7 linked regions of the Homo sapiens genome follow. The protein of the gene in region 5 purifies or fractionates together with the protein of the main gene of each other region. This does not show direct contact. Each region holds a gene or a part of one and is shown on either strand. Other genes may lie near its edges. The genes, in order: KDM5A, CHD9, NFE2L1, LIN28A, PHF12, BPTF and SPICE1.

Evidence for each region.
Region 1: the proteins of PHF12 (region 5) and KDM5A purify together in Homo sapiens (affinity purification with mass spectrometry; 3 studies listed by BioGRID and IntAct, with this or other methods). This does not show direct contact.
Region 2: the proteins of PHF12 (region 5) and CHD9 purify together in Homo sapiens (affinity purification with mass spectrometry, with the first as the bait; one large-scale study listed by BioGRID). This does not show direct contact.
Region 3: the proteins of PHF12 (region 5) and NFE2L1 purify together in Homo sapiens (affinity purification with mass spectrometry, with the first as the bait; one large-scale study listed by BioGRID). This does not show direct contact.
Region 4: the proteins of PHF12 (region 5) and LIN28A purify together in Homo sapiens (co-immunoprecipitation; one large-scale study listed by IntAct). This does not show direct contact.
Region 6: the proteins of PHF12 (region 5) and BPTF purify together in Homo sapiens (affinity purification with mass spectrometry, with the first as the bait; one large-scale study listed by BioGRID). This does not show direct contact.
Region 7: the proteins of PHF12 (region 5) and SPICE1 purify together in Homo sapiens (affinity purification with mass spectrometry; one large-scale study listed by BioGRID and IntAct). This does not show direct contact.

What each region holds. Positions count from the first base shown.
Region 1 is NC_000012.12:378,927-383,047, forward strand, and holds part of KDM5A (lysine-specific demethylase 5A), read right to left. Parts: intron 1-4,121. UniProt on the Homo sapiens protein: Histone demethylase that specifically demethylates 'Lys-4' of histone H3, thereby playing a central role in histone code. Does not demethylate histone H3 'Lys-9', H3 'Lys-27', H3 'Lys-36', H3 'Lys-79' or H4 'Lys-20'.
Region 2 is NC_000016.10:53,323,741-53,328,368, reverse strand, and holds the end of CHD9 (chromodomain-helicase-DNA-binding protein 9), read right to left. Parts: intron 4,350-4,628; coding exon 3,474-4,349; 3' UTR 872-3,473; downstream 1-871. UniProt on the Homo sapiens protein: Probable ATP-dependent chromatin-remodeling factor. Acts as a transcriptional coactivator for PPARA and possibly other nuclear receptors. Has DNA-dependent ATPase activity and binds to A/T-rich DNA.
Region 3 is NC_000017.11:48,054,859-48,058,658, reverse strand, and holds part of NFE2L1 (endoplasmic reticulum membrane sensor NFE2L1), read right to left. Parts: intron 2,274-3,800; coding exon 2,061-2,273; intron 1,628-2,060; coding exon 1,538-1,627; intron 1,316-1,537; coding exon 1,157-1,315; intron 365-1,156; coding exon 1-364.
Region 4 is NC_000001.11:26,420,608-26,424,728, forward strand, and holds part of LIN28A (protein lin-28 homolog A), read left to right. Parts: intron 1-4,121. UniProt on the Homo sapiens protein: RNA-binding protein that inhibits processing of pre-let-7 miRNAs and regulates translation of mRNAs that control developmental timing, pluripotency and metabolism.
Region 5 is NC_000017.11:28,923,690-28,927,810, forward strand, and holds part of PHF12 (PHD finger protein 12), read right to left. Parts: intron 3,375-4,121; coding exon 3,302-3,374; intron 3,040-3,301; exon of another isoform or gene 2,586-3,039; intron 614-2,585; coding exon 220-613; intron 1-219.
Region 6 is NC_000017.11:67,831,757-67,835,877, forward strand, and holds part of BPTF (nucleosome-remodeling factor subunit BPTF), read left to right. Parts: intron 1-4,121. UniProt on the Homo sapiens protein: Regulatory subunit of the ATP-dependent NURF-1 and NURF-5 ISWI chromatin remodeling complexes, which form ordered nucleosome arrays on chromatin and facilitate access to DNA during DNA-templated processes such as DNA replication, transcription, and repair.
Region 7 is NC_000003.12:113,448,872-113,452,992, forward strand, and holds part of SPICE1 (spindle and centriole-associated protein 1), read right to left. Parts: intron 1,646-4,121; coding exon 1,465-1,645; intron 1-1,464.

The sequences.
Region 1 (4,121 bases), on a different chromosome or scaffold from region 5:
CCAGCCTGGGTGACAGAGTGAGACTCCATCTCAAAAAAAAAAAAAAAAAACTAATTATTCATATAGAAGTCTATTAAATTACAGGCATTCCAAGTAATACTTTTTATTATCAAAAATAATAGGGAGAAAGATGAAGTGATTTAATCAAAACAGGAAACCATCATGCTGATGACTTAATGACTCAGAAGACTGAAAATTTGCTTCCCATCAAAAAGCAATGGGAATCATAGTATTTTCAAATCATATATAAAAAAAAAACTTAATAGATGCCAACAAACTGTCAGCCAAAAATAATCTTTTTTTTAAAAAAGGGCACACCTAACCTTAAAACATCTCAACTCTCAGTATTTTCTGCAGTTTTCAGCCCAAGCCTCTTGCTAGAATAAAATGTCATGTTAATGAAATAAATAGTCACCCAATGATAAAGGTCAGAATAAATTACCTTTGTGAAGAAGTATTGACTGGAAAGGAGATGAAACAACCCACTAGAGTGCTATAAAAATGTTATATATCTTGATCTGCGTGATGGCTACAAAACAGGTGTACACATATGAAAATTTATTGAACTGTACGCTTGAAATTTGTGCATTACACTGTAAGTTACACCTCAATGTAAAAGAAAAAAGTTAACGTGAGAAGCAGCAATCTCACAATGACATTTAGGGAACAAAGTATTATAAACTAAAATAACTACAAATCAAAGTTTGTCTGCCTTTTAGCTTTAAATCTCAGTTTTGCAAACATTCTCACAGGTTGGGGAAAGAGATGTCCATGAGGACTTAAAAAAACCCACAAAGACAAGATTCCAATAAACCGTCAGATAAGCACACTTAACCTTTAATCATAACATATTTTCAATAAGTTTTCTGAATATTTAAACAAAGTGTACTTTATTAGTAGTATGAACCTTAAAAGGAAATCAGCTTCTCAAGATGGAGTTAAACACTCTGGATGACCGTTATAAGGAGAATTGTGAACAACTAAGTATTCAGACTAGGTTACCTCTAAAAGCCCCTTCCCTATTTTGAAATCCTATGACTTTAGAAAACCAGAAAAGTGCAGCCGGGCACGGTGGCTTGCACCTGTAATCCCACCATTTTGGGAGGCCAAGATGGGAGATCACTTGAGATCAGGAGTTCGTGACTAGCTTGGCCAACATGACGAAACCCCGTCTCTACTAAAAATACAAACATTAGCCAGGCGTGGTGGTGTGCGCCTGTAGTCCCAGCTGCTTCTGAGGCTGAGTGAGGGGAATCGCTTGAACCCAGGAGGTGGGAGGTTGCAGTGAGCCGAGATCACGCCTCTAGCCTGGGTGATGGGGGAGACTCCGTCTCCAAAAAAAAAAAAAAAATGCAATTTAACTTACCATCAGATTAAACCTAAGGTTTACCTTTTAAATGGAAAATCACTGACAGAGAAAGTTTCAATAGATTACTACTCATACTATTAATACTTACTCTAGCAAATTCCTTAGGGTATTTATGAAAATAAAATAGAGATAAAGATTGGCCGGGCACAGTGGCTCACACCTGTAATCCCTACACTTTGGGAGGCCAAGGTGGGCAGATCATTTCAGGTCAGGAGTTCAAGGCCAGCCTGGCCAACATGGTAAAAACCCCATCTTTACTAAAAATATAAAAATTAGCTGGGTGTGGTGGCACACACCTTTAATCCCAGTCCCAGCTACTCAGAAGGCTGAGGCATGAGAATCGGTTGAACCTGGGAGATGGAGGTAGCAGTGAGCCAAGATTGTGCCACTGCACTCCAGTCTGGGCAAAAGAGTGAGACTCTGTCTAAAAAAAAAAAGTAGAAAGAGCTTCATTAAAGAGTACTACAACATATTGCTATTAATGATAAAATAATTTTTGAAAAAAAAATTTTTTTTTCAGACACAGTTTCACTCTTGTTGCCCAGGCTGGAGTGCAGTGGTACTATCTCAACTCACTGCAACCTCTGCCTCCCGGTTTCAAGTGATTTCCTACCTCAGCCTCCTGAGCAGATGGAATTACAGGTGCCCACCACCACACCTGGCTAATTTTTTGCATAATTAGTAGAGATAGGTTTTATTTTATTTTTTTTTTTTAGACGGAGTTGTGCCGCTCTTATTGCCCAGGCTGAAGTGCAATGGCGTGATCTCAGCTCACCACAACCTCCACCTCCCGGGTTCAAGCAATTCTCCTGCCTCGGCCTCCCAAGTAGCTGAGATTACAGGCATGTGCCACCACGTCCGGCTAATTTTGTATTTTTAGTAGAGACGAGGTTTCTCCATGTTGGTTGGGTTGGTCTCGAACTCCCGACCTCAAGTGATCCTCCTGCCTCAGCCTCCCAAAGTGCTGGGATTACAGGCATGAGCCACCGTGCCCGGCTGAGACAGGTTTTCATCATGTTGGCCAGGCTGGTCTCAAAAACTCCTGACCTCAGGTGATCCATCCGCCTCAGCCTTCCAAAGTGCTGGGATTACAGGCATGAGCCACAGTGCCGAGCCAATTTTTGAAATTTTTTTTGTATTTTATTCATACTACAGTCAAACACATTCAGAATCTTAAACAGCATCATACAGCAAAACTTAGTAGGTAAGTTTTGATTGAATAAAAATTTCAAAAAAGCATTCTTAAGATGAATTTTTATCCTAATAGTTCCCTATAAGAAGAAACCCACCACCCAAATTTAGCATAATTTGTTCTTTAGTACCATAGGTTTTCATATAACTATACTAGACAATTCTTGACACAGTGCTTACTTACTAACATCATTACCTGACTGATTAAAAAAAGTCTCAAGCTGTATTTTAGCGTAAGACCGTACTTCCCAAATTTTTTAGTAAGAGAATTTTGACCTGACACTAATTTTAAAATGTATCATAAAAGATAATTTAAATATGGTTACTCTGTTTTTTTGGAAACAGGGTCTTGCTCTGTCACTCAAGCTGGAATGCAGTGGTGTGATGACAGCTCACCGCAGTCTTGACCTCCTGGGCTCAAGCAATCCTCCTGCCTCAGCCTCTTGATTAGCTGGGACTCCAGGAGTCCACCACCATGCCAGGATTATTTATTTTTTAATTTTTTGTAGAGATGGAGTCTCACTATGTTGCCTAGCCTGGTCTCGAACTCCTAGGTTCAAGCAATCCTTCCACCTCAGCCTCCCAAAGTGCTGGGATTATAGGTATGAGCCACCACATGCCACGAATTATTCTCATGTTTTTCCTTACAAGTGAAATCTTCCTGGCCACGCATGGTGGCTCACGCCTGTAATCCCAACACTCTGGGAGGCTGAGGCGGGTGGATCATCTGAGGTCAGGAGTTCGAGTCCAGCCTAACCAACATGGAGAAACCCTGTCTCTACTAACAATACAAAATTAGCCAGGTGTGGTGGCAGGCACCTGTAATCCCAGGTATTTGGGAGGCCAAGGCAGGAGAATCACTTGAACCCGGGAGGCTGAGGCAGAAGAATCACTTGAACCCGGGAGGTGGAGGCTGCAGTGAGCCGAGATGGCACCACTGCACTCCAGCCTGGGCAACAAGGGCGTGACTCCATTTCAAAAAAAAAAAAAAGTGAAATCTTCTAAAAGTAACTGCAATTTAAATAAGAATAAATTTTTATTTCAAAATAGTATATAAATTATAAGATATGAAAGGCCACAAGAAGAAGTTGTTTTACAAAATTCCCAGATAATTAAGCAATAATAAATTTGTATTATTGTAGTAACAAAACATATTTTAGCCGGGCGCGGTGGCTCACGCCTGTAATCTATAATCCCAGCACTTTGGGAGATCAAGGTGAGCGGATCACGAGGTCAGAAGTTCGAGACCAGCCTGACTAAGATAGTGAAACCCCATCTCTACTAAAAAATACAAAATTAGCCTGGTGTGTTGGCACATGCCTGTAATCCCAGCTACTCGGGAGGCTGAGGAAGGAGAATTGCTTGACCCTGGGAGGCAGAGGTTGCAGTGAGCCAAGATCAGGCCATTGCACTCCAGCCTGGACACAAGAGCAAAACTCCATCTCAAAAAAAAGAGAAAAAAACATATCTCAAGGTTATTATAATCTCAGCTTGCAGGTCAGTTAGTTTTTTTTTTTCACATTAGGGAATATAATGTTAAAAAATTAACACAATTTCAGCA
Region 2 (4,628 bases), on a different chromosome or scaffold from region 5:
AACAGGTCAAGGATGCAGTGGGCTGTGATCGCACCACTGCACTCCACCCTAGGGGAGGCAGAGCAAGACCTTGTCTTTATAAAAAAAAAAAAAATCACTCTTTTCTCTCACAGAGCTCACAAATTACAGAATACATCATTTTATACCTCATATCTCTTCTCAAAAATGTCCAACATAGGCAATTCTTCCTCCAACACTGGAACAGACTACTGTTCCTCTGGGTGAGTACTAGATGAAGCAGTTGGTTTGTGTTTATATGTTATGTTGTACAAAAATGAAAAAAAGGTTTTCTAAACATGAAAGTGTAGTTGAATGTGTTCAAGTTAAATGAGTATGAGACTCCACTGTTTTAGTTGTGTAATTAGAGGAAAAACTATTTTCTTCAATGTTTACGAAGAACACTACCCATGGCAATGAGTTAGGAAACACTCTTAAGACTAAGGGAAAAAAATAATTATTGATTTCCAAAATGGACTTCTTAAAGAGGTGAGGAATATCTCTGAGTATTTCTGAGTTTTTTAAAAGTCCAAAAACTTAAGAAAATAATACTTAATGTTCAGCATGAAGTTGAGATTGGGCTGCAAAATTGGGGTTTAACAATTTGAATGCCCAAGAAGCAGCTTTTGCTTTTTTTGCAGTCACCAATATCCACAATGAACAATATTAATAAAATTAAATCAAAATGAAAAATTGACAGCATTTAAGATACTGTGGATAAAATTATAGCCAATTTTTGTTTTAAAAATTCTTCCACGGTATATTTTCCTTTTAAAGATTTACAACTATGGTGTCTCTCATAACTGGAATAAGATAAATTCTATATAAAATTCAATTTTAAAAAGTATTCTCATGTACAGAGGCTGACATCATGGGTAGTCAAAGAATATGTTTAATAAAAAATAATTAAACTTCCATTTGCTCTATAGAACATCATAGAAAGTAATTTAATAAATTACAAATGACTTTTTAAGACGTTTGCTCAACTACAGAAAGCAAATTCAGACTACACAAAACACAACTGGTAAATATTGCAAATGTCCAAAAGAAAGATTGGACTAAGACTTGAATCATAAAACCTGAAACAAGGGCTATAAATACAAGGCAATAACAGCTATAATTCTTTTAGTAACTACCAACACATACTTGGATATTCTTTCAACTGCAACTTTAGTATTATGTAATTCTACTGATTTTTTTTTCCTTATAACCCTTAACTTTACACAACCATATTTGCATGTGTTTTCTTAGCTGATAGCTGGACAACTTTTCCCCAATGAATATTAAATAGAAGTGTCTTGAAACCTAAGAGAATGTTTAAAGTTATGTTAGACTTAATGCTTTGAAAACTGTAATTGCCTTATTATATAGAAAGAGAATCACTAGGATGTTAACCAAATTTATTTGACCATAATTAGGAAAATACTTTCTCTCATAAATTTGATATAAATTAGATTTTAGTGACAAGATCTACAGATTTTTTTTCCTTTTTTTTTTTTTTAATTGGCGAAAGGAAGGAATAAAGATCATGTGGGTAGAATTAGAGGGAGGAAGGGAAATGTGGTTGGTGTTGAAATACTCCACCGGTAAACTAAGATAACTGTGTTTGAAACTTTGGCTATCTCATAGGTGTATTCTAGTTAAACAAAAGTGCAATACTGCAAAGGGAAGATACTAAATATGTAATATATCATTTTCATGATGAAGAATTACTACCCACTTCTCCTGGATGGGCATTATAGAGACTATTGCTAAGACATTGCATAAAGGACTATCAATTCAAAGTACTATTTTGGGAAAATACAAAATCAATACAATCCCAATGGAACTTATATAATTTTGTAAATACATATAACACTGTCTCTCTAATAAGGGGTTATTTTACATACAGAAACATAATTTACTGGTAAAGGTCTTGGAAAACCTGATACAATTGACTAACTCATGACAAAGCAACAGTTTTATCAAAACATACTGAAAGTATTTTTTCTGTAGGAGAGAACTGGGACACTTTTTCCCCCTAAATTTATGCCCTTGCAGACTTTACTACTAACTTATTTGAGTACCAGAAAAATGCTAACATATATCTCTCCTTAGAATGTCAATATTTTTATGTCCAATTCAGTACTAATTGTTTTAAATATATATAAAGGTGAACCTGGACCTCTACCTTGTCAGAATAATAGCAGCTTTAGCAGGAGAAATTGTATCACAAATCAAATATCAGACAAATTTTACATGGTAAAGGAGTCTATGAAATTGAACAGAAGCCTCAGGCTTCACTTTTGTGGTTTACAGGTATAACTTGTACATCTTTTTGAGATTATTCAAAGTGCATTTTCAAAACGGGCAACTCAGTATATTTAATATAAACTGATAACCCAACACTGATTCTGGGCAACATTTAGTCTGCTTACACCTAGAAACTCAAAATGAATTTAGACTATCTGCATATTACTTTACCACTATTATCTGTTAATTCTGGAATATTTCCATGACATAAAACACAAATAGAAATCTACACAAAGAAAGCAAACAAACAATTTCTTTTACATGAAGTATGCTGTGTTGAAAGTTCTTTTCAGTGGCATTTCATGAGTTTGCCTTTTCTGAACCCTGGAAACAGACATTACTCATCTGAGACATGATTATTTCTAATAGGAGGCCAAACTTTGAAAAGTTAAAACTAAGTATGTCTATAGGGTGCCAAAGTCACATGACACATGATTATTTTATGACTTAATTTTACTGATATCTGAATTAAGCTCAGCAAAAAGCAAGTCATATTTCTTGCCAGATTGACATGATATATAGGATGTGTTTAAAAAACCCCTGAAAACAAGTATAGAATTAGAAACGAATGTAAACTTCCTAAACTAACTCAGCTGAGGTAACAGGTAGCCAGTTAAATTGGCTGATTGGGAAACTTATTTCTTCTTTAAAACATACTTGTACCTGAATTGGAAACATCAGCAGTGCATCACAACACTAGAGCATTTTCATGTAATTAAAGCAATGGATGGTGATGTAGATTCTACAGCTTTCATGACATTCATTAGCTGCCCAAATTATTGCTGAGTTTTGATCTGTAAATTATAGGTGTCAAGGAGGCTGTAAAACTATATTCAAATTAAATCAGTAATATGCATAAAGTATTCTGTGTTCACTGCAAATATATTAAATATACAACTCTTATTGAGCATAATTTTCATAAAATTAACCCCCAACAAAATTATAATGCCTTTTGTTGTAATTTTACACCTTTATGTATTTGATAGTACATACGAGTTCAGAAACTTATGAATCTTAAGAAATATTACATGCAAAAAGTCTCTGAAAGCAGTTTGCACTTCTAAACAAATAACTGAAATGTTCGGTCAGTAAGTTATTGATGCACTCAACACTGGGGTATTTACAATTAATTATTAAAGAAAAAATCCAAAATCAGTTCATATTTTAAGTGCAGAGTCTGGGAATCAGTCTTCATTACTAGAATCTGAATCCTCAGATGACGACGATGTACTATCAGATCCAGATGAAGCATCAGCTTTCTCTGAACCCTCATCTGTGCTGTTTTCATTGAGAGGACTTGGTTCAGTTCCTCCTTTGTCTTCCTGATCTTTAATTCTGGAATCTTCTTCTTTTACTTCTACAGACTTAGACGAGCCTAAGTCACTGTTTTTGTTTTGTACATCAAAAGTATTGGACTGGGACAAAGTTGGAATATGAAGATTAAGGCCTGGAGTGAGAAGCATCCCTGGATAAAGTATATTAGATAGTAATAGTGGGTTAAGAGCTAATGGGTTGGCAGCTGCAGCTGTATTTAATGCAGCAGTAGAGGATGTGGAAGGAGAACTTGACACAGAGTTTTCTCCACCATTCTCTGAACTTTGGCTCTCTGTCCTTTCTGTTTTTCCTTCTGACTCCTTAGAGTCACTTCCCTTTTTGTCTTCTGTCCCAGATTCCGTAGGCTTTGTCAGGAGTCCTCCCATGCCCAACAGATTTGGTAATCCAGCCATTCCTGACAGCAGCATGGGGAACATAGCAGCCATGTTTTTAGCTTCTCCTCCAGAAGGAAGGCCGGTAGGCATTCCCATCAACCCAGCAGTTACTTGCAGTGACTGCAAGTTTTGTAGGTTTTGTTGTAAGGCCTGAAGAGTTGTGAGATCCACACCTGGAAGTAGTCCATTGGCTAACAAAGGATTGCCTGAAACACTGGTGGCAGATGCAGCAGCTGCTGCTGCTGTGGCCTTTGCAATTCCACTTTTAGGCCGTCTCCCCCGCCTGCTTACTTCCTCTCTCACAACGGGACCAGTGAGAATACGTTCATACATGCTTTCTGGAAGAAATCCCTGGAAGAAATATATATTCATTAATAATCCCTACATGAAAATAAAATAAAGAGTTATTAGCTTATCATACAAATAACCATGAAAAATAGGTAATTATTTGTAAATTTATTCTGTACTGATATTAAATAATCAATTATAATAGCAATAACCTAATTTTATATAAGTGGTAGCTTCAAACAGCTCTTCCACTTTTCATTTTATCACAGAATAAGTGAGTAAAGAGGTCTTTAGCCTTCCTCCATACTGTAAAACATAAGATTGTAGTATAATTCTAGAAAA
Region 3 (3,800 bases), about 19 Mb from region 5:
TAGCTTCATCTAACAGACCCCCCAAAGGGTCAGGCAGCTCTGGGCCTGCTGTGTCATTGGCTGTGCCATTGAGCTGGGGTGGAAAGAAGAGCCCTGTCAGGTTGGTGGAGCCGAAGGTGGAGTTGAGGCTGGTAGAATTGCTGGGGGCCAACGGGAGCAGCGTGGAGCTACTGGCCACAGGCAGGCTTTCCACCTCGGGGCTGAAGAGTAAGAAGTCCTGGCTGCAGCCCCCCAGGGACGCCTGATGCAGGCTGACATTCTGATTGATGGGAGTGTTGGGGGCAAGGCTGTAGTTGGTGCTCAGTGGGTCTCCAGGAGGGGCACTGTACAGGATTTCACTTGCTGATGTGTTCACTTCCATGGCCTGGGAGGGGAGAAGAGCACCACTGTTCACTAGGAACTGACTCCCTCCCCTGGGGCTCACACACTGCAGGCACCCAACAGAGGCACAGCTGCATGGGTGTAAAGGCAAAATACTATAAACCAAAGCCCACAGTGTCAGCTCCTGACCCAGCTTCGTCCACCAGGCCTGGCAGAGATGGGTTCTTCCATGTAGGCTCCACCCTAATATAGGACTGATCAGCTTTTCCTCATGTTTGGCCAGACTCCCCCATCTTGGAGGGAGAGGAAGAAAACACTACCTTGTTACTGCAAAATCAGCACAGTGAAAAGAACACCCAGACTTAAGTCAGAAAACCTAGCTGCACCACTTGCTGTGTGACGATGGGCACATCATTTAACCTCTGAGCTTCAATTTCCTCACCTTTGAGATAAAGGCTGACTAGATGACTGTGAGGGCCAAGTGAGCGAACGATGGCTGTGAAGCACCATGTGAATGTCAGCTATTATTAACGCACAACCTTGGAAGCATTCAGCCAAGTGCCTATCTGCCTGAAGGAAAGGAAGAAGGCACACCCAGGAGGCAGGCCCTGATTTGGAAGGCTGAGTCCTGAGTTTTATTTAACCCAAACCCTACCTGTCTCCAGCTCCCATTGCCCCAAGGACACACCTGGACAGGTTTCTTCTCATTGTCCCCACTTCTCTATGATTCAGGGAAAGTATTACACTTTCTCTCCTTGGAGATGGAAAAGCAACTGAGTGCTAAGACAATCTGTGCAAAATCCAATAGGTTTGTGCCCGGTTCCGACAATCCTACCTGCATTTCCATGATGGACATGAGATCTTGCCACTGCTGTTCCAAATCAAATGGTGACTCTGTCCCGGTCAGAAGAGGAGACAAGAGGTTGTTTTGAAGAGCAGGGGGCTCACTCTCACTAGGCACTGCTTCTGTTATGCTGGAAATGTCTGCTGGAAACTAGGGCAAAACACAGAGGCTTTAACAAGGGGGAAGGAAAAACCTTGTGCTTTCCTCCCAGAGATTACCACCTGGACCTGTTTCTGTTCTTCCTTCCTCTGCATTTACCCCCAGCAGCCAGAATAAGGCCAGAACCAACAGCTGGCCCCTCAGCCATGGAGGGACACACCAGGTACAGGCTGCCCTGCTCACTTGGTGGACTCTCACTGGAGTCCTGCTCACCTCAGCATTCTCCCCAAAGGGGCAGGTGGCTTCCAGCAGCCTAAGGCACTCTTCCAGGGACAGGGCCGTCTGGTCCTCCCCACTAGGCACCTGTGGCAACAGGAACTGTAAGTCTGATTGACCTGGGCCTTGGCTGCCTGGGGCTGAAGCTTCTTTCCCAGAATGGCTGAAGCCCTGCAGTCTCCCTCCCATTCCCAGGCTAATGGCTGGCCCCGAGTCCCAAACTCCCAGAAACAACAGAAGAGAGTGAAAGAGTCCTGAAGCAAGCAGGAAGATGCTACATGCTCTGCCTCCCTTGCACTGTCTGTTGCCACGGCCTGGCCATTCTGCATCTGCTGCTTTCCACTCCCCCCTTCCAAGGCTCAGCCACTGTGACTTACAGACCCCAACCCAAAACAGAAATTCAGGTCCACCCCACACACCACCTGTCTTCTCTAAAGGAAGTTTCTGGAAGAACTCCAGCCTGGTTTGTGTCAGGGTAGTAGGGACAAGAAGAGAGCCCAGTGAGCAGGGGCGATGGTACCTGTGCAGGGAAGCTCTCCCCAGTCTCTCCATCCACTAGCAGGTTCCGTGCCAGAGCTTCCGCGCCCTCGCCTGCCCAGGTGTCCTGCTCGCCTCCATCTCGCAGCTCCTTCTCCACATCCTGCTCCTTCTGGCGGTGACTATAGTCAAAAACCTCACGCCCAGCCCCCAGATCAATATCCTGTCGCCAAAGGATGTCAATCAGATCTATGTCCTGAAAGACAGATCACATGACTTTAGCTCTAAGATCCCAAGGTCCCTTCCTTGTCCTGCCCCTCAGAGTTCCCTCCTAGTGTCACCCCAGTTAGTCCTGGGTGGGGCCCCTCCCAGCTCTTCACCTGCCAGCCTTTACCCCCTGGTCCCTGCACCAGCAAGTGTTCATTCATCTACTTCCAGACACTATCCCCTTCCCACAAAAAAAAAGAGCCACTAGCAAAACCATTAGTGTGACTATCACCATAAGGGTGCAAAGGATTAGGATCTGGACCAAGACACACCCAGACAAAAGGCAGGGCCGCCTCCCCCCTACATAAGAAAGAAGGGGAACATCAGGAGACACCTCTAGCTTTGGGGATTGGACCCCTTAAAACTTGGTTTGGAGGAAGCTGGCCATGGCAAGCAAGAGCGAATTGTCATGCAGAATTACTTAGCAGTGGCCAGGCTTGCATCAGCCTGTGGTACCATTTCATTTGCATAAAGGGGTGGGGTGGGCTAGAGAGGAAAATCCCTGCATTTCCAACCACCTGATGCAACCAATGACAACGCCATGCTGTCTCCAGCCCTTCCTATAGCCATTCCCCATTCCCCAGCTGGCAGCAAGAGTAAGGCTGAACACCCACAACTCCTCAAGCCCAGGCTCACCTCAAGACTCATCCCCGCCAGAATTCCCTCTCAGCTGATCCTAGCTGCTGCCTCCATTCCAGGGAGGCTCAGGCAGTCAGATGATCCCCAGGGGTGCACCCCACCCCCTGCTCGGGCCAGCCTCACTGTGTCCCCTACACCAGTGCTCTCATTCCCTCACCATACCCCAGGACTCACCAAATCCCCATCAGTCAACCCCCTCAAGGACATAAACCCCATCACTGCTCAGCTACAACTGCCACCTTGGGCACCAAAAATGCTTCCCTCCCGCTCTACCCTGGTGGCTCGTGAACAGTTGCTGCACCAACTGCCACCCCCACTAACAGCATATAACCCCAATAAATAGAGCTATTTGGGCTTCCTATACATGGCACCCCCCTGTAGTCGAGCCCTCCCTACAAGCCTGAAGAAACCCTAAAGTGTTGCCTTCCATCCAGGGGTTAAAATGCAGACATACACTTTCCAGAAAGCAATTTCCTTAGATCAGACCCTCCTCCCTACCTCTAAGTCGGTATTCTTCTCCCATTAACCCCCCCTGACCCTAAGACCTCCCAGACGTACTACTTTAGTCTCCCCACATACACCAACCTGAACAGAAGCCCTGGACCCAGGAGCAGAGGCGGGCTGGGCCACCCGGTGACCAGCCAGCAAAGAGTTAAGGGGCCGGCTGCCTTTGGCATGGCCCCCACCACTGTGAGAGCTGCGGTCCAGGCGGGTCATGGTCTGCGAGATGAGCCCCAGGGCAGCCGGTGCCGGGAAGCCGGACAGGGGGCTGCAAGGAGCTCTTGGCTTTCAGGGAGCACACCAGGCTGGAAGGGTGGCCCCTTGCTAGCTCCGAGGGGCCTGAGGAGGGTGCCCCGCCCGTGCTGCTGCCTGGGCG
Region 4 (4,121 bases), on a different chromosome or scaffold from region 5:
AAAAAAAAAAAATTAAGTGATAAGGAATCTGTGGTTCCTTCATCTTGATGAAGAGCATGTTTCATTTAAGTTCCAGTTTGGAATATTACCCCCCAGCCACCAGCATAAAATACGAATGCTACTTACTCATGTTCCCTTGAGCCAGGACTAGGTAAGTGCACAGTGATCCCTTTTGCTTCTCCATTTTCTATGACGACTACTCCTTGTTGACATATTTGACACTGTTGTTTTACTATAATAGATGAAGCTGTAATGAAGTCTATTCTGGGTAGGGTCTGAGATGCTGTCACCTCCGCTAATGTCAAGTTGGTGGTGCAGTAAGTGGCATGATAGAATGAGCTCTGAGCTTTAAATCAGGAACTCTGGGTTCATCTGACCCTGGCTTTGCTACAGAACTAGCTGTATCAACAACTACTTTTTTTTTTTTTCTTGATGGCTGCTGGCTGTTTGCTAACTGCTTTATAAATATCAGTGTCCTTAAATTTTGGTACAAACGTGCAGTGTTCTAATAGGATTATTCCATACATATTGTTCTAAATCTTGCTTTTTGTTTTTTCTTTTAACAATATTATTTGGTGATCTTTCTCAGCTGAATGATTAAAAATCTGCCTCCTGTTTCATTAATTCATTCAAAAATGTGCTAGGCATTATTTCAGGTACCAAAATGTGGCTGTGAACAAACCAAAGACTTTACGTTGTTCTTAATGGCTGCGTGGTATTCATTATTATAGATGTACCATATTTATTCAACCATTCCCCTTCAAATACACCAGTAGGTTATTTCCAATTTTTTTAAAGCAACAATGAGATACTGAGTATATGTGTCGTGCTAAGACTTCCTACTGATAATCTACTTATATTATGTTGTGTAATTCTTTTTTCTTAGTGATTTATGGTATATTTTTGTAGTTTTACCAGTCTGATTATCTGTCTTAACTTTTCAGTATTTTTCTTAACAATGAGGTGTTTAAATCCTCTGAAATGTATTTTGCATATGTATCATACAAAGTCTGTAGGAATATGACTTCCTTTCCCAATGGATTATTAATTTTTATAGCAGCATTTATTGAATTATTTTTCTTACCTATTGATTTCTCCATATATTCTCAGATCTCTGTGATTTTCCATTTTAATCCTCTGATCCATCTGCTTGGGTTATACTGTCTTTCGGTAACATTATTTTGATATAATTTCAAACTTTAAAAAGGCTGCAAGAACAATACCCAACACTCCCACATAACCTCTACCCAGATTCATTGACTCTTAACATTTTGCCCCATTTGCTTTATCATTCTCTATCTTGCTACAGATAGTTTTTTTTTTGAAACCATAAGTTGGAGACAGTAAGCACTTTTATCTCTAAATATTTCAGTGCGTATTTCCCAAGAATGGGAATATTTATCTTTTTTTTTTTTTTCTGAGACAGGGTCTCACTCTGTCACCCAGCCTGGAGCACAGTTGTGTGATCTCTGCTCACTGCAACCTCTGCCTCCTGGGCTCAAGGGATCCTCCCACCTCAGCCTCCCCAGTAGTTGGGACTACAGGTGTGTACCACTGTGCCTGGCTCATTTTTGTATTATTTTGTAGAGATGGGTTTTTGCCATATTGCCCAAGCTGGTCTCGAATTCCTGGGCTCAAGCAATCCGCCCATCTTGGCCTCCCAAAGTGCTGGGGATTATAGGCATCAGCCACTGTGCCTGGCTGGGAATATCAATCTTACATCGTTTCAGTACACTAATCATAATCAGGAAATTAAACACTGGTACATTTATCTATATACCATATGCAAATTTTGTCAATTGTCCTATTTTTTTTTTTTTTTTCCTGTTTCAAGATCCAATCTGGAATCTTGGATTTCATTGAACTGTTCAGTTCTTCAGGCTTTGTCTTTTTATGACCTTGACATTTTTGAAGTCCTGTTTTATAGGAATGTCCCTCAGTTTGGGTTTGTCTGATGTTCCCTCAAGGTTAGATTCAGGATGTGCATTTTTAAAGTCATAAGTCCTTAGTGCATCATATTAGAAGATATGTGTGTCCCATTGTAGGCAAAGCTAAACTCAAAGAACTTGACTAGGGTATTATCTGCCAGTTTTCTCCACTGTAAACTTGCTGTTTTTCCCTTTGTAGTTGCTACACTGCTGATTATATCCAATTTAAATTGTAATATCTGGTATTCTTGGCAATTTATATTTTCCCATAGCCTTTAGAATCACTCAATCTTCCAATCCAAGATCGTGGTATGTTTTTGCATTTTTTCCTTTAATATATTTGAGTTTTTTCTTCATATAGGCTTTTTACCTTGTTAAATGTATTCTGAGGGTTTTGGTGTTTTTGTTTGTTTCTGAGAGAGGGTCTTACTCTGTCGCCCAGGCTGGAATGCAGTGGCATAATCTTGGCTCACTACAACCTCCGCCTCATGGGCTCAAGTGATGCTCCCACCTCTGCTGGGATTACAGGGGTGAGCCAGACAGAGTCTCGCTCCATCACCCAGGCTGGAGTACAGTGGTGCCATCTCTGCAACCTCTGCCTCCCGGGTTCAAACAATTGCCTCAGCCTCTCGAGTAGCTGAGATTACAGGTCTGCGCACCATACCCAGCTAATTTTTGTGTTTTTTGTAGAAATGGCATTTCGTCACGTAGGCCAGGCTGGTGTTGAACTCCTGGATTCATGTGATCTGCCCACCTCAGCCTCCCCAAAGTGCTGGGATTACAGACAGGCATGAGCCACTGTGCCTGGCCTATTCTGTTTGTTTGGTTTTTTAACATGTTTTGCAGCCATTATTATGATTTCCTTTTTTTTCTTTTTCTTTTTTTTTTTTTTTTTTTTTTTGTTGTTGTTGTTGCCCAGGCTAGAGTAGAATGGCGCAATCTTGGCTCACCGCAACCTCCGCCTCCCGGGTTCAAGTGATTCTCCTACCTCAGCCTCCCAAGTAGCTGGGATTATAGATGCCCACCACCACGCCTGGCTAATTTTGTATTTTTAGTAGTAGAGACAGGGTTTCTCCATGTTGGTCAGGCTGGTCTCAAACTCCTGACCTCAGGTGATATGCCCGCCTCGGCTTCCCAAAGTGCTGGGATTACAGGCATGAGCCATTGCGCACGGCCCATTAGTATTATTTCTTAAATCATTGAGCATCTTGAGTTTGTTTTTTTGTTTGTTGGTTTGTTTGTTTTGCGACGGAGTCTTGCTCTGTCACCCAGGCTGGAGTACAGTGGCGCGATCTCAGCTCACTGCAAGCTCTGCCTCCCAGGTTCATGCCATTCTCCTGCCTCAGCCTCCGGAGTAGCTGGGACTACAGGCACCCGCCACCACGCCTGGCTAATTTTTTGTATTTTTAGTAGAGACGGGGTTTCACCGTGTTAGCCAGGATGGTCTCGATCTCCTGACCTCGTGATCCCCTGCCTTTGCCTCCCAAAGTGCTGGGATTACAGGCGTGAGGCAGCGCACCCGGCCTTTTTTTTTTTCTTTTTTAAATAAGGCATATCATATTGCTTTGATTATAAAAATACCACTTGATTTTGTATTTTTTCCAGTATTCTACTTATTTGGTCTTTTGATGATGGTATAAATACTAAGTGAGGCATTATGTGAAAAATGAATATTTCAGTGCTTCATAGCGTGACATTTTATTTTTATTTTATTTATTTATTTCTTTGAGATGGAGTCTTGCTCTGTCAACCAGGCTAGAGTACAGTGGCATGATGGCTCACTGAAACCTCTGCCTCCGGGGTTCAAGCAACTCTCCTGCCCCAACTGCCCAAGTAGCTGGGATTACAGGCGCCCACCACCACACCCGGCTAATTTTTGTATTTTTAGTAGAGACAGGGTTTCACCATGTTGGCCAGGCTGGTCTCGAACTCTGGACCTCGTGATCCACCTGCTTCAGCCTCCCAAAGTGCTGGGGTTAAAGGCGTAAGCCACCGTGTGTGGCTGAGCCACCATGCCCAGCTATTTTTACTTTTATTTTATTTATTTATTTTTGAGACGAAGTCTTGCTGTGTTGCCCAGGCTGGAGTGCAAAGGCGCCATCTTGGCTCACTGCAACCTCTATAGTGTGACACTTTAAATTTCGTAATTTTATATTTGTTGATTTCTTCCAAATGCTTGTATTTACAAATTTT
Region 5 (4,121 bases):
CTGGGGGAGGGGAAGGAAAGAAGTTCAGAAACTGAGAAAATGGAAAACTGAGTAAGCTCTGTAATGGCTAAGACCTTCAAAGATCTCTCCAAGCAGAACTAGGAACAGGAACCCAAGACAGTAGCTACATGAACAGTGACTCCACAGGCAGCACTGCTCTTGTGCTGGTCCTTTGGGGAAACTGGGGTTGGGAAGGGATATGATGATGGTTTGGCTGACCTGGTAGTGCAGTGGTACAAGTCAGTTCATTGGGCAACTGAAATTGGGTGGGGTTCCGCTCCATGGCGGCAGCAATCAGCAGCTCAAAGGGCCGCCTCAGCTGGGGCTGCACATAGTCTGGCTCCGCTGCTACTGGTTCCTCATCCACGTCAATGATGTCTTCGTCGACATCATTCTGCTCAGAGGTGGGAGTCTCTGTGCTGGCGCTGGATGTGGGTGTGCCAGGCCTGCTGGCTCTCCTTTCCAGGATCCGGGCATGGGCAATGGCCTTTAGTTCAGTTTTGCTGGCCGATCTGTCCAACAAGTCAGTGTCACTGCTGGGGGATGTAGTCCGTTTGCCAGATTTGTCCACCAGTCCATTGACATGACCCAGCTCCTTTTTCTGCTCTCGTTTCTGTGCAAATGAACAGGTGGGCCCATCATGAAAAGTACCATGAAACAAAGAGATGGGTGCTACAAAGTCCTGGTAGACCACTAATCAAAACTGTAAAAGGCCTTCACATATCACAGACTCATCTACCTGGTCACTTGGAACACTGGTCTGTTAAAGTTGACACAACTCTAACTGAACTAAAGCTGACAAAACTGTTGCATCAGAGAATCACCAAAAAGCATGGTAAGTTAGGAATAACTATACAAAATATATATCATTAACATTAACTCATTGTATGACATACAACATCTATAAAGTATAGGGTAAAGGGCTAAAAAGGTAACACAGTGAGAATAAATTTAGTGAGACCAATAGTAAAAATCAATGGGGCAGGCACGGTGGCTCACGTCTGTAATCCCAGCACTTTGGGAGGCCGAGGCAGGCAGATCACCTGAGGTCAGGAGTTCAAGACCAGCCTGGCCAACATGGTGAAACCCCATCTCTACTAAAAACACAAAAATTAGCTGGGTGTGGTGGCATGTGCCTGTAATCCCAGCTACTCAGGAGGCTGAGGCAGGAGAATCGCTTGAACCTGGGAGGCAAAGATTGCAGTGAACTGAGATTGCGCCATTGCACTCCAGCTTGGGCGACAGAGCAAGATTCCATCTCAAAAAAAAAAAAAAAAAAAATCAGTGAGATCACTATAGAGCCTTCTGACCTCCTGAATGGTTTTAAAAATAAAAACTTTGCTCAAAATAAGTGACACTTCTTAGAAAGTGGGGAAATGGAAAAAGATTAAGTGTACTCAGTAGGACTGGATATCTGATAGTACATTTTCCTCCAGGACTCCAAATAGAGTGGTCAAATGAAGGTTTAACACTGATCTCCAGGTAGGAGACCTGTGATCTTGTCCTATTTCTGCCACGGATCCCCTCTGACCTTGTGGTGACTCAGGCTGGTGGGCAGGAATTTCTTCATCTGTAAAATGAGACAGAAAAATCTTTCTCCTCCTCCTCTCAGGGATATGGTGGAGGGAGATAAAAAGGGTCATATATACGAAAGGGATAATTTGGAGTTGGAGTAGGACCTAGTCTTCCACTACGAATCATGATAGGGCCTGAATGTCAGGAGCTGATGAAGGCCAGAGGATGTATTATTTCAATCCACTTCAGTGTAAATACAAGAGGCCAAAGGGGAGTAGTGCTGGTGATGGTGGAAAAGGCAGACTTGGCACTGGTAGGCAGAGGTCCATGTGAAAGGTAAGAGAGGCATCTCAGGAGAAGTGCCATGTTAGAAAAGGGCATACTGTAATCCCCAACAAGTAGCTCTCCTTCTAGAAAACTGATGAAGAGGTAACAGAGGTTTGGAATGAGAGAATTTGGTTCAAACATTGGTTCTGTCAATACCTTTGAGTCCTTGGGAAAGTTAATCTACATTTTTGAGCCTCCGTTTCTTCCTTTCTAAAATGGAAACCTACGGCCAGCATTCGGTATCCATCTATGGCTGGATGGATAGATAATGGGATAACGTAATTAAAACACCTGGCACACGATGGGCACTAACATAATATTTCCTTTTCTCCACCGTCTTTACCCCTTTTCCTTCAGCTCCCCTAAACCTTTTCAGGTCCAGCTTTTTTGAGTGGCAAGTTTGAGAGGGCTCCTGGCTGGCAGGTGCCTCTAACAGGCCCTGCTCTAACCTAATTAGGGATGCACAGGAAAGGATCTTGGAAGGTGGAGAGGCTGGAAGACAGCCTGGTTTATGGAGAAATTTAACTACAGCTGTGGTTAGGTGGTTGACCTGGCTTTGGCTTGCTTTTAAATATGAACCCTTATGCACGTATTTGAAAAATAATGTCTGCTTGTTTACTTTCTTTCTTAAAGGCTGAAACTGTTACACACATAAACCACAATCTTAATCATCTCATCCTGTTTCTGCAACCAAGGAAGTCATCATTCATTGTGACATCATGTTCGGGGACCAGGCAAATAGAGGTGAGGTCACAACATAGGAAAGTTGCTTGGTGTATAATTAGTGTGGGGAGCACAGGGGGGTGGATTACAATGCACAGACAAATTCTAATCCATAGCCTGTAATTTGAGGGTTGGGTCAATCATAATTTGGGTGCAAGCACACCTACTTCCTTTTTTAATAAGGGAGAATTTAGCTCTTGTTACCCACAAGAGTTCTCAAAGTAGAAAATAATAAACCATGTTCTTGAAGCCAGTACTGAATTATCAAAGCTGAAGGAAGGGAAGCTAAAGAAAGATTAGGCAACTTGGGGTACAAATGCGTTCAAAATCCTCTCCGTCAGTATGCCAAGTCTCTGGATACCAGTGACTTATTTGCCCTGGGGTGAGAGAAAACTCCATTTTCCATCAAGCTGGAGAAGCAGCCTTTGTTTTTCAGCCATGGATAAGGCCACTTATTAGGAGGACAACAAGAAGGTAAGACTACTCCTGTCACTAGTGACTAAACATGGCTCAGTAAGTTAACACACCTCTTCTGCCCATTTCAGCAGCCCATGTTTGGATTTTTAGGCCCTACTGGATTCCAAACAGTCACCATGGGAAGAGTGGGGTGATTCCAGGGCTGGAAGAGACAAGAAGAAGGGACAAGAATGCCTTCAGGGCTAGGCCGTCTTAGCTCTAGCATATCAGTGCTCTGGATCAGGCTTTCTGGACAGTCTTCAGAAAGCAGCATTATTACCTTTCGGCGAACAGTGCACCGGTGACACATCCACTCTCCAGGAGGCAACATTTCTTCACTCAGTGGAGGGTTACTGTGGGGAACAGACAAGGGCAAGACTAAATAACTAGCCCTTTGAGGCAGTAGGAAAAGCCTAGCTAGGTTTGCATGTTCCTAAACTCCTATTGTGGCCAGTCCTGCAGGACTGCTAGGGTTGTCTCCTCCAAAATGCCTAAGTCAGCATCACTCATAATAACCTAAGGAGTGACCATCCCTTCCCACACCTTAGAGAGAGAAGCCAAATCCAGAGCTATTAACACTGGGTTTGTAGGGAAAGGTATAATAAAATAACTGAGAGGTCCTCCACACTGTTTTCTTAAAGCCTGTTAGTGTAGAGCCAAGCTTTTCTAACTGCTGTTCAAAGCCCTGTCACATGGTCCCACCGTTCCATCTTCCCAGACCCCTTCAGGTGCTCTTCCCACTATTCAAATGGAAGACTTCCTATTTCTTCCTCTAGAATACTCTTCCTTTAGAAAGCTATGCCTGTCAAAACTCTATTCATCCTTTCATACCTGCCTCAATCAGCTGTGATGGATTAAAGACAGCTGCAAATTATCTGCTCTGCCTCCCATCCACAGGTAGTCCCTTTCCCTCCTCTTGAATTGTGCTTGTCTTATGACTTGCTTTGACCACAGAATGCAGCAGAGGTGACAATGTTGCAACTTCCAAAGCTTGGCCTTAAGAGATCTGCAGATTCTATTTTTTAAGAAATATGCTTGGAAAGTTCCATCTCAGAGCCCTGCTGTCATGCTATGAGAGAGGACATGGAGGAGACAAGGTA
Region 6 (4,121 bases), about 39 Mb from region 5:
GCCAGGCTGGAATCCCTCTTCCTGGGAGATCTTCCCTGAGTCCTGTTTTGCACCTTGGTCTTCCTTCTCTTTGAGTGCCTGCTTACGGTGGTTATGATCTCAGCACTAGCTTAATGCTGACACTGATTATTCTAATTTTATTTATTTATTTATGAGACAGAGTCTCACTCTGTCACCCAGGCTGGAGTGCAGTGGCATAATCTCGGTTCACTGCAACCTCCACCTCCTGGGTTCAAGCGATTCTCCTGCCTCAGCCTCCCGAGTAGGGGACTACAGGCGCCTGCCACCACGCCCGTCTAATTTTTGTATTTTTAGTAGAGACAGGGTTTCACCATATTGGCCAGGCTGGTCTCAAACTCCTGACCTTGTGATCCGCCTGCCTCAGCCTCCCAAAGTGCTGGGATTACAGGGGTGAGCTGCCGTACCCGGCCTCTAATTTTTTTCATGCTTTTGGTTTTTTAAAATGATAAGCCTCAGGAGGCAGCATGTTTCTTAATTTAAAAAAAAAAAACCACTTATACATTAAAATGCACTTTAAAAGATCGAAGGTGACCGTATAGAAATAATTAAAATGCACGTAAATATAATTATAATGTTTTAATTGTTTTGTCTGCTGGTATATATCTAAAATTTTTATGTTTTTCTAGATAGTAAGTTATATTCAACTATTATTTTGTGATTGTCACATTTTAAAAATAGTGACAGTAATAGCTAAATTTATTGGACATCTTCTGAATTGCTGAATGATTTTCAAGCAATATTTATGAAAATTCAGTTTTTAAAAGGTAACAGCTGTATGGAGATATAATTTATATACTGTAAAATGTACCCTTGTAAAGTATATAATTTAGTGGTTTTTTTAGTATATTGACAGAGTTGTGCAACCATTAACACTACCTAATTCCAGCACGTTTTTATACCCCCGCAAAAGAAGCCCGCACCGTCAGCATCACTCCCTGTTCTTCACCTCCCTCCTGCTCATCCCTGGCAGCCACTAATCTACTTTGATTCCCTGTTGATTCGCCTCTTTTTTTTTTTTTTTTTTTTTTGAGGCAGAGTCTCGCTCTGTCACCTGGGCTGGAGTGGAGTGGCGGGATCTCAGCTCACTGCAACCTCCACCTCCCGGGTTTAAGCGATTCTCCTGCCTCAGCCTCCCAAGTAGCTGGGATTACAGGCACCTGCCACTGTGCCTGGCTAATTTTTTGTATTTTTTTTTTTTTTTAGTAGAGACAGGGTTTTACTATGTTGGCCAGGCCGGTCTCGAACTCCTGATCTTGTAATCCACTCGCCTCAGCCTCCCAAAGTGCTGGGATTACAGGCGTGAGCCACTGCGCCCCGCCTGATTTGCCTCTTATGGACATTTCTTATAAAGTGGAATCATATAATATATGTCTTCCATCATTTAGCCTAATGTTTTCAAGCGTTATGCATATCTTAACATGTATCAGTACTATATTTGAATAACACTTCATTGTATGGCTATACAGCCTTTTTTTTTTTTTTATGGAGACAGGGTCTTGCAGTGTTGCCCAGGCTGACCTCAAACTCCTGGACTCAGGCAATCTTCCTGCCTCAGCCTTCCAGCCTCCAGAGTAGCTAGGATTACAGGCACACATCTCTGTGTCCAGAGACCATGTTTTGCTTATCCATTTCTTAAGTTCATGGACATCTGAACTGTTTCCACTTTTTGGCCATTAGGAATAATGCTGCTGAGCACATTCGTGTACATGTTTTTATCTGTACGTATGTTTTCATTTCTCTTGGGTATATAACTAGGATTATTTGCTGTATTATTGCAAATTCAGTTTTAATTTCTTTCTTTTTTTTTTTTTTGAGACAGAGTCTCTTGTCGCCCAGGCTGGAGTGCAGTGGCATGATCTTGGCTCACTGCAACCTCTGCCTTCTGGGTTCAAGTGATTCTCCTGTCTCAGCCTCCTGAGTAGCTGGGACTACAGGTGTGTGCCACCATGCCTGGCTAATTTTTGTATTTTTACTAGAAGAGGGTTTCACCATGTTGGCCTTGCTTGTCTTGAACTTCTGACCTCAAGTGATCCACCCGCCTTGGCCTCCCAAAGTGCTGGGATTACAGGTGTGAGCCACCGTGCCTGGAAGAAAGTAATTCAGGAGTTAGAATGAATCCTTAGTGATAGATTGGTTAGGCTGGGATGTGGTGAGTGGGAGAAAAGGATTCAAGGATGAACTGACTTCTGAATCTCCCTTATTTCTCTTTTCCTTATTCACTCCTTATTTCTTCTCTTCATCTCGAATGGATCTAGTAATACTGATTTCTTTGTAGTTCTCACACACCTAACTCCTAGTCATCCATCCATCACCTTCTCCAGCCTGCCTTCTCTGATCACCATTCCCTTTACCGCCAGGTGGGGCTAAGTTCCTGTGTTTCCCACCCGTATAACCTCCAGGACCATGTGCATTAAGTGTTTTAGTTTCCAAATATTTGGGAATTTTTTAGCTATCCTTCTGTTACTGATTTCTAATTTAATTTCATTTTGTTCAGAGAGTATACTTTGTATGACTTTAATTTTATAAAACATTTTTAGAGGTTTGTTTTGCACCCCAAAATTTTGTCAGTCTAAGTGAATGTTCCATATGTACTTGAAAAGAATTTTGTATTCTGCTCTTGTTGAGTGGAGTATTGCATAAATGTCAATTAGGTCAAGTTTGTTGATAATGTTACTAAGATCTGTCTGACTTTCTGCTTGTTCTGTTGATTACTGAGAGAAGTCTTGAAGTCTGCAGCTATTGTGAAGGATTTGTCTGTTTCTCCTTGAAGTTCTAGCAATCTTCATGTATTTTGAGGCTTTATATTCATGTATTTTGAGGCTCCTTCCTAAAGTCCATAAACCTTTAGGAAGGATTATTTTATCCTCTTAATTATTTAACCCCTTTATCTCTATCTTTATCTGTTAAGACATGGAGCTGAAATGGGCTTTTAATATCTGGCCCTTCTTTAATTACAACCTACTTTGGGCAGGGACAGTCTCATTCAGTCTCTGTAGTGCCTGGTTCAATCTCTTGAATGCAGTAGGCAGCACAAGTAATTGTGGAACTGAATGATGAGTCAAAGAAAGCCTGTGGATTCTTTTCACGCTCTATACTGTCCAGTATGGTAGCCACTAGCCACATGTGGAGAGTTAAATTAATTAAAACTAGGCAGGCCAAGCGTGGTGGCTCATACCTGTAGTCCCAATACTTTGGGAGGCTGAGGTGGGAAGATCACTTAAGGCAGCAGTTGAAGACTAGCCTGAGCAACATAGTAAGACACTGTCTTTACAAAAGAATTAAAATAGTTTGGCAGAGGTTGGCATGCCTGTAGTCCTACCTAATTGGGAGGCTGAGGTGGGAGGATTGCTTGAGCCCAGGAGTTAGAGGCCCTAGTCAGCTATGGACCATGCCACCACACTCCAGCCTGGGTGACAGAGTGAGAACCCATCTCTTAAAAAAAAAATTTAAGTAAAATGAAAAGTTAGTTTCTCCTGTGGCACTAGCTGTTATATGTTCATTTCAAGTGCTCTATAGCCACATGTATTGCACCACACAAATGTAGAGCATTTGGGGCATTTCATATCATTGCAGAAAGTTCTCCTGGACTCATTGTAGTCAGTCTGCCTCTGTTAGACCAGGGGGAATTTACCTAACATCTCTTTTTCTCTAGCCTTTTATTTGCCCTAAATCCTGCACAGCTTGGGTAGCCCCAGCACTCTGGCTGAGTGAAGTCCTCCTTTGTGGAGACTCTGGGCCCAGCATTATTTGTGTATGTGATGGTATTGCATTTCTGCAATAAGATTTGGGGTCATGTGTGAGATGACTTTCCATTATTTGTTGTCCTTGGTGGTAGGGTGAAGAGGAAGTTAACATGTGATTAGAAAATCTGCCACAGTCCTGGTAATTTTTTTTTTTTTTTTTTTTGAGACGGAGTCTCGCTCTGTCGCCCAGGCTGGAGTGCGGTGGCGCGATTTCGGCTCACTGTGAGCTCTGCCTCCCGGGTTCACGCCATTCTCTTGCCTCAGCCTCCCAAGTAGCTGGGACTACAGGCACCTGCCACCATGCCCGGCTAATTTTTTGTAATTTTAGTAGAGATGGGGTTTCACCATGGTAGCCAG
Region 7 (4,121 bases), on a different chromosome or scaffold from region 5:
TCCACAGCAGCTTTTTTTTAAACAAATATAAGAATTTTACTTATAAAAAGAATACTTTAGAGATAAATCACTGGACAGGAAAGAACGCAGTTGCAAATCCACAACTTGCTTTGTAACTTGATAAATCACATAACCTCTTTGTACCTCAGTTTACTTATTCATCAAATAGGTATAATATTAGCCCTGTCTCCTCTTAAAGTATGTTGAGGACTAAATTACATAACATAAATAAAAGCATATTTTAACCATACACAAATACTGAAATGGAAGATGTATATTTAAACACAAAATTATTCTTAAGGCTGATCTGCTTTATTTTTCTTCCTTGCACTTAGCACTAACTGATATTATCCCAAATATTGATTTGTTTGTTGCCTGCTCCCCTACTCAAATGCTAGAGTATTCAAGCCCACACATGGCAGGCACATAGTACATGTTCGCACATAGTACATGTTCGCACATAGTACATGTTCGCACATAGTACATGTTCATATATAGTTAATTGATTTATTTATTCTAATCAGAAGTTGTCTCTAGGCTTCATAACTATGAAGAACAGTAGACAAAACTGTCATTTGAGGAAGCCTAGAATAAACAGAGAGCCCTGGGGAAATGCATTACCATCTTTTTCCAGCAATTTCCAAAAGAGTCTGCTTTCTGGGTCTGTATTTCAAAAAGGAAATAATTTCTGAGGGGAAAAGTCTTATTGGAAGGTATCTTAAAGGTAACCTACTTCAACCAGAAATAAGACATATGAGTCCCCTTCAAACACCAATGTTTGAACATCTCAGAGAACACATCAATTACTGGTACATGGAGCTTTTTCTATTCCTGACAATTAGAGCCTTCTCTTTTACTGGGCCAAAATCAATCTCTCAGTACTCTTCATGTAGCTGTCCCTTGAGGGCCTTAATAATGCAATTTCTGATAAAAAGCAACTTGATACATACTTCGTTTCATCAGTATCTTTTTGAATGTGAATACTATGACAATTTTTTCAGTTACTATTTTATTATTCAGAATCCCCTCTAGCTTTTCACATTCCTAAATGTAACAAAAAATTTAATTGAGTGAAAATGTTTTAAGTGTTTTACAGAATAATAACTTGTAATTCATTGCTGATGAAATTCTAAATGAACATTCAGATATTTCATGCTTAGTTGCAGCATATGACCTAAGTGAACCGTACACTATAATGAATCCCATTTAGATGTACGATAATTTAGGAACTCAGACACCAAAGATTAACTATAGGCATCATAGGATAGAAATAATCAGGAGATCTGCCTTCTAATCCCATTTCTGTCACTTATCCTGTGAGTTAGGGCTATTTCTTTCTGTGCAAAATTGAAGGCACCAAAATATATGCTCTGATACTTCTTTTGGCTTAATATAAACTTGCAAAATCAAGAAAACTGAAAACCTTCATATTTCTAGTTTTTAAATCATGAATTTGTGACCAACCAGTCCATGCTCTGAGAGGTAACTGAACAGGTGACATTGGTGGAGAAAGATTCAAACCAACAAGTTTCTGCTGCTCTATCAACTGCAGTAGTTTTCCACGAGCCTCCATACTTTGTCGATTCAATTCTGCAATCCGTTCCTCCATACTACCTGGTGTTAGAGACTGTGCTACTGGAAAAGTCTTTGGGAGAAAAAAAAAAAAAGTACAAATTGAATACTGAATACTGAAAAATCTCTCCCACGATTTTTTTTTTTTTTTTAGGCAGAGTCTCACTCTGTTGCCCAGGCTGGAGTGCAGTGGCGCTATCTCGGCTCACTGCAACATCTGCCTCCCGGGTTCACGCCATTCTCCTGCCTCAGTCTCCCGAGTAGCTGGGACTACAGGCACCTGCCACCACGCCCAGCTAATTTTTTGTATTTTTAGCAGAGACGGGGTTTCACCGTGTTAGCCAGGATGGTCTCCATCTCCTGACCTCGTGATCCACCCACCTCGATCTCACACAATTTTGACTTACTAATGGCCAGCAAGTTAGTATTCATAGCCCTTATTATATATAAATGTGAATAGTGAGCACACAATAGAATTTACAGTCCCTTTAAGCATATATTCTGGGAAAAGCTTTTCTGTATCTCTTAGTATCTGCAGAGCTGCACAAAAGATCACATGAGCAAAGAGACTGCTCCAAGTGAGCTGGTCTCTAAGTAAATGCCACACATCTTTGAAGACAGATCTGCAGTTTGACAGATTACAAAAGAGGATCTGCTATCTTGGAAACAGAAGTTTCTATAATTACAGGCTTCAAATATGCACCATTTGGCAAAGATTCTGGGAATCTTGTCACTCCTTCTAACCATATGTCAGCCTCCCCAAGCCACTTTTGGCCTAAGGTATCTGATTCAAGAATAGTTGGTGATTGGAAAGAAATATGAGAGGTAGGGTAAAAAATAGCCGCCCAAAAAATATAGCATAAATTTAATTTGAAAATTCCCCCCCCAAATGTGCTTATGTCATTCCTAATTATTTCATTATTCCTAATTATGTCATTATTTCAGTCCTAGTTATTTCATTTCTCTTTGGAAAAAAATAATCCCTAATAAAAATCACTGATTTTTAGCTTATGTCTATTAGTAATAAATAAATAAATAAATAGGAAAATCAGTATGAATTAAAGATCATTTTGTATTTCCAATTAAAACAAAAGAGGGTAGTGAAGACAGAAATATTAGATAGTCCCTTCCAGCTTGATCTACATACTAATTAGAAAAGGAGGCAAGCAAAACATTAGACTCTGCTGTCTTTTTTAAACCAAGAGTTGCCTGTTATGAATAATCTTCAAAACTACAAATATATAAATGCCTCCCAGTGACTCAAAATTGAGGCAGTTGATATTTACTTATATACACCACTACCAATGGCTGGCTGCTCCCTACTAGCAATATTCCTTTCTGGCTCCTCTTCTGCCAGTTCCTTCTGTCTACTTCTATGATTCAATACCCATATTGTCCTTATTCCCCATGACCCAGTGCTGACAGAGATGGCCCTTACCCTATGACTCACCTCACCCTAACCTTCCTCACCAAAGCCCTCCAACCCACTGTTGTTAAAGCCCTTATGAACACAGCCACCTCACGAGCTTCTAATCCCCAGTGACAGTGCCCAGCTCCTCCTATCAGAAACTTGACAGGAGCGGCCTTGGCTCTAGAAGGGGTAAAAGAAAGTGTCTACCATCACTGGAACCAGCATTTGGAGCTCTTTTATAAACCCTCCCTAGCTGGAATTTAGACTCCCTATCTCCCCCAGAAACAACGAAATGAAGGTTTAAGTTACCAGGTTAGCCCACAAAGTTTATTTAACTTACAAAACTCCTGCACTATAAAATGCAGACCTTTGCTACTCAAAGCGTGGTCCTCAGACTAGCAGCACTGGCATCACTTGGGAACTTATTAGAAATGCACAGGTCCTACCCTAGACCTACTCAATCAGAAACCACATTTCAGCAAGATCCCCAGATGATTAATATGTATATTAAAGTCTGGCTTTAATAATCCTTTAAAACATTATTTCTGGCCAGATGCAGTGGCTCATGCCTGTAATTCCAGCACTTTGGGAGGCCGAGGCAAACAGATCACTTGTGGTCAGGAGTTCGAGACCAGCCTGGCCAACATGGCGAAACCCCGCCTCTACAAAAAATACAAAAATTCACCAGGTGTGGTAGTACGCACCTGTAATCCCAGCTACTTGGGAGGCTGAGGCAGCAGAATCGCTTGAACCCAGGAGGTGGCGGTTGCAGGGAGCCAAGATTGCGTCACTGCGCTCCAGCCTGAGCAACAGAGTGAGACTCCATCTCAAAAAAACAAAACAGGCTGGGCGCAGTGGCTCATGCCTGTAATTCCAGCACTTTGGGAGGCTGAGGCGGGCAGATCACGAGGTCAGGAATTCAAGACTAGCCTGACCAACATGGTGAAACCCCGTCTCTACTAAAAATACAAAAATTAGCCAGGTGTGGTGGTGCATGCCTGTAATCCCAGCTACTTAGGAGGCTGAGGCAGGAGAATCACTTGAACCCGGGAGGCAGAGGTTGCAGTGAGCCGAGATCATGCCACTGCACTCCAGCTTGGGCAACAGAGCAAGACTCCGTCTCAAAAAAAACAAAACA